2 separate regions of the Homo sapiens genome follow, and region 1 is linked to region 2. Evidence: fine-mapped expression QTL. A gene starts in region 2. The other region holds a variant in brackets. All regions are shown on one strand. Distances are from middle to middle.

Region 1 (5,352 bases), 76 kb after region 2:
ACCAAGTAGCTCAGCCTAAAGGCAAACACTGTTACTCTGGTCTTTTCTTTCTGAGAGCTGTTCTGGTAGCAGTGGTGCTGACAGCCTCCTAGGCTGCCCTGACCTCTCGCCCACCTGGTGGATGCCAGTTGTTTCATGGCCCCATGCTCCTGGCCCTCTTAGTCAAAGATTCTGTGTCACGGTTGATCCTGTGGGCCCTTGTGGACCACCTCATAGTTGGTTGGAAATTAGTGCAGCTTAAATTTTGTGCTTGTTCTGTCCTCAGCCCCTGAGCAAAAAAGTAAAGAAATTCCAGTGTTTCTGTGCCTGTATTTCTCTGAGACGGTACAAGAAGTGGACTACTTACTGTAGTTATGAGCATTCAGGGTAAGGTTTTGCCAAGGGATCTGAGAAATGGAAGGTGGGGAGTGGAATAATATTACAGCTTAATTCAGATAATTTTGAAAATATGACTTTCTAGACATCCTGGCTGACTAAACCGTATTCTGAATTAGTGAGTGACATTGATAACGGAAATATAGTTCTATCAGATAGAGTCGTTTATTTGGAAGGGTTAGTGCAGATCTAAGACTGGCGACTTGAGTATGTGAGGGAGAGATTGCTGGTCTCTCCCCTGTTATTTATTCTCCTCTTTTTCCACAGAAATACTATCTCTGATTTTGTCTCTGGGTACGTGCCCCTCCTGAATAAAGACCACATTCACCAACATTGCTTGCACCTACATGTGGGCATGTGTCCAGGTGCTTCCAGTAAGATAATAGTGAAGTTGTCATGGGCACCTTACAAGTTATCTGTGTATCTTTACCTTTCTTACATTCTGCCTGGAATGGGGTTGTGATGGATGGAGCTCTCACTGCCATGTTGGACTGTGAGGATCTACAGTTTTGAGCTACATTCCTGAGCCGACATTGTTTAAGCCCCCAGTGTCTTTGGGAGAACTCAGTCTTGACAGTTGAAAGCCATAACTCAAAGCTAGTCTGAGGATGAATCCCTGTGATTGCCACCGGGCACTTGACATTTTAATTAGCACTTCTGCTCCCAGAATTCACCTGCAATGTTCCAACACCAATGTTACTTCTGCACCCAGTTAGAGGGGTAGGGAGAGGTTGGGAGCTGCCCTACCCCTGCTGTGGCACTCACTCCTCAGCCAAAGACTGGCAGAATCCTGGCCGCATGGCCGGGAAGGCAAGTACTCACCACTTTAAACATTTAAATATTCCCTGCATCAGGAGACATTCTTCACCACTCACCAAGACTCAAGGGGAGAGATCCCAGAACAAAAAAATAAATAGCTGTTGGGTGGCCAAAGACAGTAATAATTGTAATTTAAATTATTCTGATTTTCTAGATCAGTGGTTTTCAGGCTTTAATATGCATCAGAAACATCTAAAGTTTGTTACAACGGCTGCTGGGACCCGGCCCCACACTGTCACAGTCTTGAGGTTCATCCACACTGTGGTGGCTTAGCCATTCACCTATTGAGGGTTATTTGTTACAACGGCTGCTGGGACCTGGCCCCACACTGTCCAGTCTTGAGATTCATCCACATTGTGGTGGCTTAGCCATTCACCTATTGAGCGTCGTTTGTTACAACGGCTGCTGGGACCTGGCCCCACACTGCCACAGTCTTGAGGTTCATCCACACTGTGGTGGCTTAGCCATTCACCTATTGAGGGTCATTTGGCTGTTTATCCATTCACCTGTTGATGGTTGTTTGGCTATTTACCCACTCACCTATTGATTCCCCTTTGGCTGTTTATTGATGGTCCTTTGGCTATTGCAGATAAAGTTGCTAGGAACCTTCATGTATACAAGTCTGTGTGGGCTTGTTTCACTGGGTCAGTTTCTTGGAGTGGAAGTTCTGGTTAATATGTTAAGTCTACATTTAACTTTTAAACAAATCTCACAAACTGTTTTCCATAGTTGTTGTAACATTTTATATTCCTATCATCCTCCCTTACAATGGTTATTTTCAGTGTTTTTATCTTCATTCTGTTGGTTGTGTAGTGGTAACTCATGGTGTCTTTAATTTGTGTTGCCCGAGGACTGATGCTGCACACTTCACTTATGTATCTGTGTTGGTGAAATACCAGCTCAAGTCTCTCATCTGTTTTTGTTGTATTATTGCATTGTTTGTCTTGTTGCGTTTTAAGCCTTCTTTAGATGTTCTGGATACAAGTCTTTTATTAGGGTTGGGTATTACAGTATGTGGCTCCTATTTTTATTTTATTTTATTTTATATTTTATTTTTGAGACCGAGTCTCGCTCTGTCACCCAGGCTGGAGTGCAATGGTGCGATCTTGGCTCACTGCAACCTCTGCCTCCTGGGTTCATGCAGTCCTCCTGTCTCAGCCTCCCGAATAGCTGGGATTACAGGTGCATGTCACCATGCCTGGCTAATTTTGTGTGTGTGTGTATTTTTAGTAGAGATGGGGTTTCACCATGTTGGCCAGGCTAGTCTCAAACTCCTGACCTCTGTGCTGGGATTACAGGTGTGAGCCATCGCACCTGGCCCTATTTTAATTTTTTAAAATGGTGTCTTTCAAATAGGAAATTTTAATTTTGAAGAAGTCCTGTTTATCAATTATACTCTTGTAGTTTGTGCTTTTTGTGTTCTATATAAAAAGACATGTAAAAAACCATGTTTATTTGTTGTCCTGTATGAAATAACATGTTTTATTTTGGCTTGCATAGTTAACTGATGAGAATCTTTTTTTTTTTTTTTTTTGAGACAGAGTTTCGCTCTGTCACCCAGGCTGGAGTGCAGTGGC[G/A]CAATCTCGACTCACTGCAAGCTCCGCCTCCCGGGTTCACGCCATTCTCCTGCCTCAGCCTCCCGTGTAGCTGGGACTACAGGCGCGCGCCACCATGCCTGGCTAATTTTTGTATTTTTAGTAGAGACGGGGTTTCACCGTGTTAGCCAGGATGGTCTCGATCTCCTGACCTCGTGATCCGCCCGTCTCGGCCTCCCAAAGTGCTGGGATTACAGGCGTGAGCCACTGCGCCCGGCCGAGAATCTTGCTGTTATTTCTACATTGGTGTCTGTGGCTGCTTTTATTATCTCCTTATCGAAACCTAAAAGCTCTGCTCTTGTGTTTAGGTCTGTGATCCATTTTGAATTAATGTTTATGTATGGTATGAGGTAAGGATTTATTTATTTCTTTATGCCATATGGATATCTAGTAGTCCCTGCACCATTAGAAGGTAATATTTTTATCAAGGAACTCCATGACACATCTCTGGACCTGCCCTTCATCTAGACCAGCAGGGCTCAGCTGGGCATGAGTTTGCCCCTCTTTCCGTCAGTGGCACAGGTGTCTTGGTGGGCTGGGTTGCCACAAAATGCCTCAGGTAGGAGGCACGGGACAGCCCTTGCAACAAAGAGTCATTCCAGCCCAGTGGTCAATGGTGTGATGTTGAGAAGCTCTGCTGTGTAAGTGTATGTTTGAGCTGTTATGATTAGGTGTGTAATCCATTTTAAGTTAATCTTGGATGTGGAGTCCAAGTTCAGTTTGTTGTTTTTGGTTTTTCCCCATATGATTATCCCGTTGTTCCTGCACCCTTTCCTCCTCCATGAAATCACCTTGCATCTTCGTCAAGATGCAGTTGGCTATACCTGTGTGGGCTCTTTCTGGAGTCTTTTCTGTGCACTGAGCTATGGCCATCCTTACGCCAATTCCCAGGGTCCTTTTTATTTGAGCCGTACCTGTGTCTTAAAATTGTGAATTGCAAGTCCCCAATTGGCTTTCTGTTTTTTGATGTGGTTTTGGCTTTTCTAGCTCCTTTGCCTTTTCATATACATTGTAGAATCAATTTGTCAATTTCTACAGACGAAAACATGCAGTACAATTCTGATTGTGATTACACTAAATTTACAGATCAAGCTGGGGATTAACTCGCAAAAAGAGTCCGGCCACTTATGGAAAGAAGGCAAAATAATAAGTTATGATGAGAAAGAGTGATATTCCTTTATTATTTGTGCAGGCAAGGGGAAGAGCAGTTCCACTCTTCAGTTTGTGGAGGGAACGCAGGGTTTTACAGAAAGGGTTTGGAATGCGGAAGAGGCAAGGGGGACTAAGAGGTGCCAGGTGGCGTGACTTGCTTCAGTGGCCCTTCTTGAATTATTGTCCCATTTGGTGAAGGGGCCGGCACCATTGTGCATCCTACCAGGTTATAAATTAATCACAGTCAATCTTGTAGTCACTCTTCAGCCAGGAGAGGGTTCTGGCCTTGAAATAATCTTTTGTTGGAAAGAGAATTCCGGAGTTGCCTAGTCCCTTTTAGGACCCGACCCCTGAAGCTTCTAAGCAAATAAATGGCCAGATAAGAGAGCATGGTGTGTGCTTAACTAGTATCTGGGTAAATACATGTGCATAAAGCATGGGAGCATACAGTGGGAAAAGAAAGAAGAGTGGAGGGCCCGGGTTCGGTGGCTCACGACTGTAATCCCAGCACTTCGGGAGGCTGAGGTGGGTGGATTGCCTGAGGTCAGGAGTTCCAGACCAGCCTGGCCAACATGGTGAAACCCCATCTCTACTAAAAATACAAAAAATTAGCCAGGCGTGGTGGCACACGCCTGTAATCCCAGCTACTTGGGAGTCTGAGGCAGGAGAATCACTGGAACCCAGGGGGTGGTGGTTGCAGTGAGCGGAGATTGCACCACTGTACTCCAGCCTGGGCGACAGAGCGAGACTGTTTCCAAAAATAAAAATGAAAGGGAGTGGAGGTTCGCAGCACATTCCAAGGCTGTATTTCGAGATGAAAGGTAACACATATGCAGTTTGTCTCAAAGTTTTATCTTGAGACTGGGAAGGGGAAGAGGAAAAGGAAAAGAAAAAACAGTTTGAAACACAGTTTGAGGCTAGGCTGCTAGGCTGCTAAGCTCTTCGGGCAGAGGGAGAATTGACACTCAACAGTGTTGAGTCGTCTGATCCATGACCATTGTCTAGTTTTTCAGACATTTAATTTCTCCCAATATTTTGTCATTTTCATGATATAGGTCTTCCATATGTTTTATTAAATTTATCCCTACGTATTTTGTGTTTTATAGAGCTGTTGTAAATGGTAGTATTTTTAAATTTTCAACTTCTAATTGTTTATACTGGAATAGAGGAAGGCAGTTTCTTTTTGTATGTTGACTTTGTATTCTACTTTTCTAAGCTCATTGATGACTTGTGGTAGTTTATTTATAGGCTCTGTCATATTTTCTACTCAGACGATCAGGTTATCTAAAAATAAATGCCATTTACATCTTCCTTTCCAGTCTGGATGCTTTTATTGCTTTTCCTTTTTGTGCCGGTGAGAACCTCCAGTAAAATGTAGCCTGGAAGTGGTGTGAGCAGGCACTCTCGCCTT
Region 2 (5,374 bases):
CTGTGACACAGTGTAACCCCCCTTTGGGGCTCTGTGGCTCCTGGCATCTGTGAGCTTTCGGGTGCCACCATGTTCCCCTTGTCCAGATGCTGATGCCTGCAGTGGAAGCCACTTGTGGTACCTCTGGTCCAGCCACAGCCTTGCATGGAGCCGGCAGCTGTGCAGGCACCTAGAGCTGCCTGCTCCACCACAGCAGCTGCATGGCTGGGTGTGCGCAGTGGTTGGACCCCATGCTCGCTTGCTCACATACCCCTTGCCGCTCTGCACCTGGCTCACCCTTGGCAGGCGTGGGATCTGGGTTGGTAGTGCAAGCCGAGTGCAACCTGCTGGGCTGAGTGGGCTCGAGCAAAACTCTAGCAGAGGCACCGCTGGCCACGGAGGTTTCTAGCTGGTGAAGCGATACCCAAAGGATCCTATGACATTAGTGGCTGCATGGGCAGGTGCATTGGGGGTGCACTGGGCGCTCCTGCTGCCCTGCTTCCACGTGCCTCTGAGCACTGCACTACATAGACATTTAGGCCTCATAACAACCCCCTAGAGGAGGCTGAGCTCTGCATTATACAGACATTTAGGCCTCATAACAACCCCCTAGAGGAGGCTCAGTACTTAAGTAGGTCCCATTTGATAGATGAGGAAACTGAGGCTCAGTCGTCCATGGCTTGTCAAAGGTCACCAGCTAGTGAGCACAGAACCAGGTTAGCCCAGGTGGTACAGCTTCAGAGCTCACATGCGTAACTTGTTACATTATTCCTACTCAGGAAGTGGAAACCCCAGGAACAGATGGCTGATTGGAGGAGGGACCAGCATAAGGAAAGGGGCAGGATTCAGGGGTGGGAGGGGAAGTCGATATCTGTTTTGGATGCATGTCAGCACCAGCGTGGGAGTAGGCAGTGAGCTGTTGAAAATTCTGGAGTTCAGAAATAACCGTGTCTTGCAAATCCAGATGCAGAGGTCACTGCTTGAAGGTGGCAGTTTGCACCTTGGATATGAAGGAAATTGCTAAGAAGAAAGCAGTGAGAAGATGAGGGCACCAAAATTCAAGAAATGGCAGGGAAGGATCTGTGTATGGAGGGAGGAGGAGGTCAGAGGTGGCTGGAGCCCCAGGATGAAATAGGCAATGTTAGATATCGGCCACCTGTTGACAAGGGTCCCAGACTCAGCATCCTCTGAGTGGGTCTTCTCCCTCCCCTCTGCAGCCTGCCTTGCTTCACTGTTGCAAGCTTCCTAGTAAACCAGTCTTCTCCCTGCTATAATTTTATATTGCTTGTTGAAACGATATTCCAACAAGTAACATAAATATTTTTGATATACTAGGCTAAATAAAACATATTTAAAAATTAATGTCACCTATTTATCTTCATTTTTCTAATGTGGTCACTAGAAATTTACAAGTGCACTTGTGGCTCCCATGATGTTCCTATTGGTTGGTGCTGTGCTCCCACAGTGCAACGACTTCAATCTCGCCAAGACCTCTGGCTTGAGTTAAGCCAGGAAAACAGATACCACTCTAGACATCTCAAGCATGAAAGAATATAGCTCCAGGGAAGGCCAAGTCCTCACGAAGGGATGCAGAGCTCGGTGGTAAAGAGCACCGTTTTCTAAGAATTTGCTTTCAACAAAAATTGGGAACGCCCAATCAAGTTATTCGCTGACACAAATTAAAAGAGATTGATACATCAGTATGTGATTTTGGCATTTAAGTCCAAAGAATTGAATGACATTGCTACTCCTCCTTCACACGGGTGCCTCCGAGGGTCCCCGCTAAGGCCTCTCCCTCTCCACCCTATGGGCAGCTGACCTGCCGGGGGCCTCACCTGCTGGAGGAGCAACTGCAGGAGAAGCACCTGTTAGGGGCCGCACCTGGCCGGAGGGGCTCCTGCGGGGGAAGCACCTGCCCAGGGTGCACCTACCGTGTGCAGGCTGCGGACCACCCGGACAGGTGCCCCCTCGGCAGGGAGGGCGGTCACGGGGGCCGGCCAGGTCGGGGTGGGGTCCTCCCGGGGATCCAGACACGGCCCTGTGGCCTCTCCCCGCCCCAAGCCTTTCCTTTCTCTCCCCCTCTCTCTCTTCCTCTCCTTCCTCCTTCCCACAACACCGCCCGCTCGCAGCGCCCCGCCCTCTCCTGGACCGCGCACTCCCTCCGCGGAGGCCCCAGGACGCGCACGAGCGCGCAGTGGACGTCGGCGCGCGGACCGGGCATGGGTTCCCCAGCTGTGGCGCCCCGCGTGCGCGTTCCGTAGTGCCCGGTAGGGCACTGGGCTTAGCTGCTCGAGGCCGCGCCCTAAGAGGCGGGGCATAGACAGGAAGAAGACTGGCGGGCATGTGGGCGGGGCATGATCTGGAGGCGGGGCGGGCCGGGCGTGTGGGCGAGGCCCGAGGCTCGCGGCGCCCCAGCTCTCGCGAGAGCGGCGCCTGATGACGACCGGGAGGGCGGGGCCCGTCTGGGGCGCCGGCGGGTGCGTTTGAATCTGGTCCGAGCGCGGGAAACGGCGGGTCCCCGAGCCCAGGTAAGAGCTGCGGTGCCGAGCCGGGATTGGGTTCAGAGCAGGGGCTGGGAAGTAGCAGGGATCGGGCGGGAAGCCCCTCCTCGGCTGGTCGGGGTCCCAGCCTCCCCTCCCCTAAGGAGGCGGCCGACCTGCGTGCGGGCAGTGCTGCCTCTGACGGAACTGGACGGAACTGGCGACCCCGGGCCATCCCCCCTACCCAGCTCAGCGACGCCCGTCCTTCTTGTCCGTGTCGGAGGAAAATCCCAGCCCCGGGCGCGGGCACTGCCCTCAGAGAGCGACCCCCCAGCCCTGAGCATGGGCACCGTCCTCAGAGAGTGTCCCCTCAGTCCTGGGCATGGGCACTGCCCTCAGAGAGCGACCTCCTCTGTCCTGGGCATGGGAACTGCCCTCAGAGAGTGTCCCCTCAGTCCTGGGCATGGGCACTACCCTCAGAGAGCGACCCCCTCAGTCCTGAGCATGGGCACTGCCCTCAGAGAGCGTCCCCTCAGTCCTGGGCATGGGCACTACCCTCAGAGAGCGACCCCCTCAGTCCTGAGCATGGGCACTGCCCTCAGAGAGCGACCCCCTCAGTCCTGGGCATGGGCACTGCCCTCAGAGAGCGTCCCCTCAGTCCTGGGCATGGGCACTACCCTCAGAGAGCGACCCCCTCAGTCCTGAGCATGGGCACTGCCCTCAGAGAGCGTCCCCTCAGTCCTGGGCATGGGCACTGCCCTCAGAGAGCGACCCCCTCTGTCCTGGGCATGGGAACTGCCCTCAGAGAGAGTCCCCTCAGTCCTGGGTGTCGGTACTGCCCTTAGAGAGAGTCCCCCTGAGCCCTGGGTGTAGGCACTGCCCTCAGAGAGTATCTCCCCAGCTGTGGACGTGGGCATTGTCCTCAGAGACATCAGTCTCCTGAACTCTTGTTGCTGGTTTGGTGCCTCTTGTTGTGTCCATGAGGAAGGAGTTTGGGGACGGAGTGGGAAGTCACAGGTGGTGAGAAGGTAACAGGGATTTCTTCTTTTTAATGCTCATCTTGATTTAGTACCAGACCTCCTGTGCGAAGAGTAACCTGCTCTTCGGACTGATAACTGGATGGTGAGATGACTCCTTACCTTGAAAGTAGCATTCTGGCTGCAGGGCTGAGGTCTTATGCACATATGGTACAAGAAACATGGAATATTGCCACTTTGGGAGATAGATTGAAAAATTAACCATTAAAAAATTACAGTCACTAATATAAGAGGGAAAATGGGAAATATAGGAATAAGTTTGGTAGTCTAGAGGAAGTGTATTACTGTAAGTTGGACTAACATGCCAAAGAGGTACACTTGGAAATAGAGCAAACAAGAAAAGTGACCAGAACTATGAAAAAGTGGAGAGTGTTCACAGACTTGCCGGGCGAAGATGTATGATTCCATGTGTTTGCTGCACCTTATTGGATTATTTTTCTAAAATCATGAATTTGTCCTAGCCACTATTCATTATGCTTGTTACTGGCCACTCTCCCTTCCCTCCCCATTTTCTTTGTCAGTGAAAAATGTGCCAGTCATGCTTGATTTAAAGAGGGAGACACGTTGTCGTTAGGCAATTTCATCATTGCATGAACATCACAGAGTGGACTTGCCTACACCTAGAGGTGTAGCCTACACACATAGGCTGTATGGTGTAGCCTACTGCTCCTAGAATGTTACTGTACTGAATACTGTAGGCAACTGTAATACAATGGCAAGTATTTGCATCGCTAAACATATCTAAGCATAGAAAAAGCACAGTAAAAATATGGCATTATAATCTTATGGGACCACGGTCATACATGTGGTCTGTTGTTGACTGAAATGTTATGTGGTCCATGACCGTAGTTCATAGTTCAGCCATTTGAGTTGAGGAATGAGATGACCAGACTTCACTGTTAACTTATTTCGGGAGTCATTAAACTGAGGTTATTTTTGCTTTGTTCAATTTGGACATTAAAATCTAGTATTATATGTTTAAGATGACTCTCTGTCCCCATAATTATTGGCAATAATTTTCCATATTGCTCTATTTATAATGGTGCAGGTGGTTTTCATTTATTTTTAAAGTGAGGGGGCTCCTACTGCAAATGTGTTCCATCATTTGCTATTACCTCATCTTTAGGTTGATGTTTTTTCAGTAGGGCACCAGTAGCACCAGGTATTGTGAATGCGAAATAGAATTTCCTGGAAAAACACAGGCAGGATGGAGGGTATACAAAGTCCCCTGAGCTCTCATTATCCCGAAGGGGTGGGAGGAGGGTGCTGTGGTTGAGCATGCCTAATGCATAGTCTAACAAGATCCCAGGTGACCCCCGGGGCCACTGTTTTCCATCTCACTTTGAATAACAAGATGACACTAACAGTGGGATTTTTTTGATGGAGGAATGGCCTTTAGAAAGGGAGCATCTTCAGAATCTGCAGCTGGGATCAGATTGTTCTTTTGTTGAATCAACTCAGCTCTGCCGAGCCAGCATCTTGCTAAGGTACTAAAAAGGGAGAGATGGTGGTGAGCTTCCTAAGGCTATTTGGATTTCTCCCTCCTTAGTTGGTAATTTTATTAACAATTGTTGATAAAATATCATTAATATCATGTTATTCACATCCCCAGTAAAGGAAATAAGTAAATTGTTTTTCAGATATTATAGCGTGTTTTATGTCAGAATGTTTTTAGAAACTGTCTGCCATACGTGGTTGAGGAATTTTCTTGCAGTTCTTGGATGTTAATATCAAATTAAATCTTACAGGAAAAGATATATTTGCAAGTGTTTCAGTATGATTGTGTTTTCCATTAGGGTTACAAAATAAATGCCATTTGAACAGTGCCATCTGTCATGGAAAAACGTGAGACGTTTGTACAAGCCGTGTCTAAGGAGC

Evidence for each region. PIP is the estimated chance that this variant, and not a neighbour inherited with it, causes the effect.
Region 1: its variant is fine-mapped to the expression of NCAPG2 in lung (TOPMed, PIP 0.92).

Annotation. Positions count from the first base shown.
Region 1 is chr7:158,625,511-158,630,862 of GRCh38, reverse strand. No RefSeq gene overlaps it. Among named protein-coding and RNA genes, the nearest start is that of MIR5707, 37 kb to the right of the region's middle. The variant G/A (reference allele first, on the strand shown) is at 2,772.
Region 2 is chr7:158,701,857-158,707,230 of GRCh38, reverse strand. NCAPG2 (non-SMC condensin II complex subunit G2) reads left to right here and starts at 2,427. Exons shown (of 28, transcript NM_017760.7): 1 at 2,427-2,507; 2 at 5,293-5,374. The coding sequence starts at 5,332. RefSeq lists silencers at 1,771-2,050, 2,171-2,260, 2,411-2,510 and an enhancer at 3,088-3,666.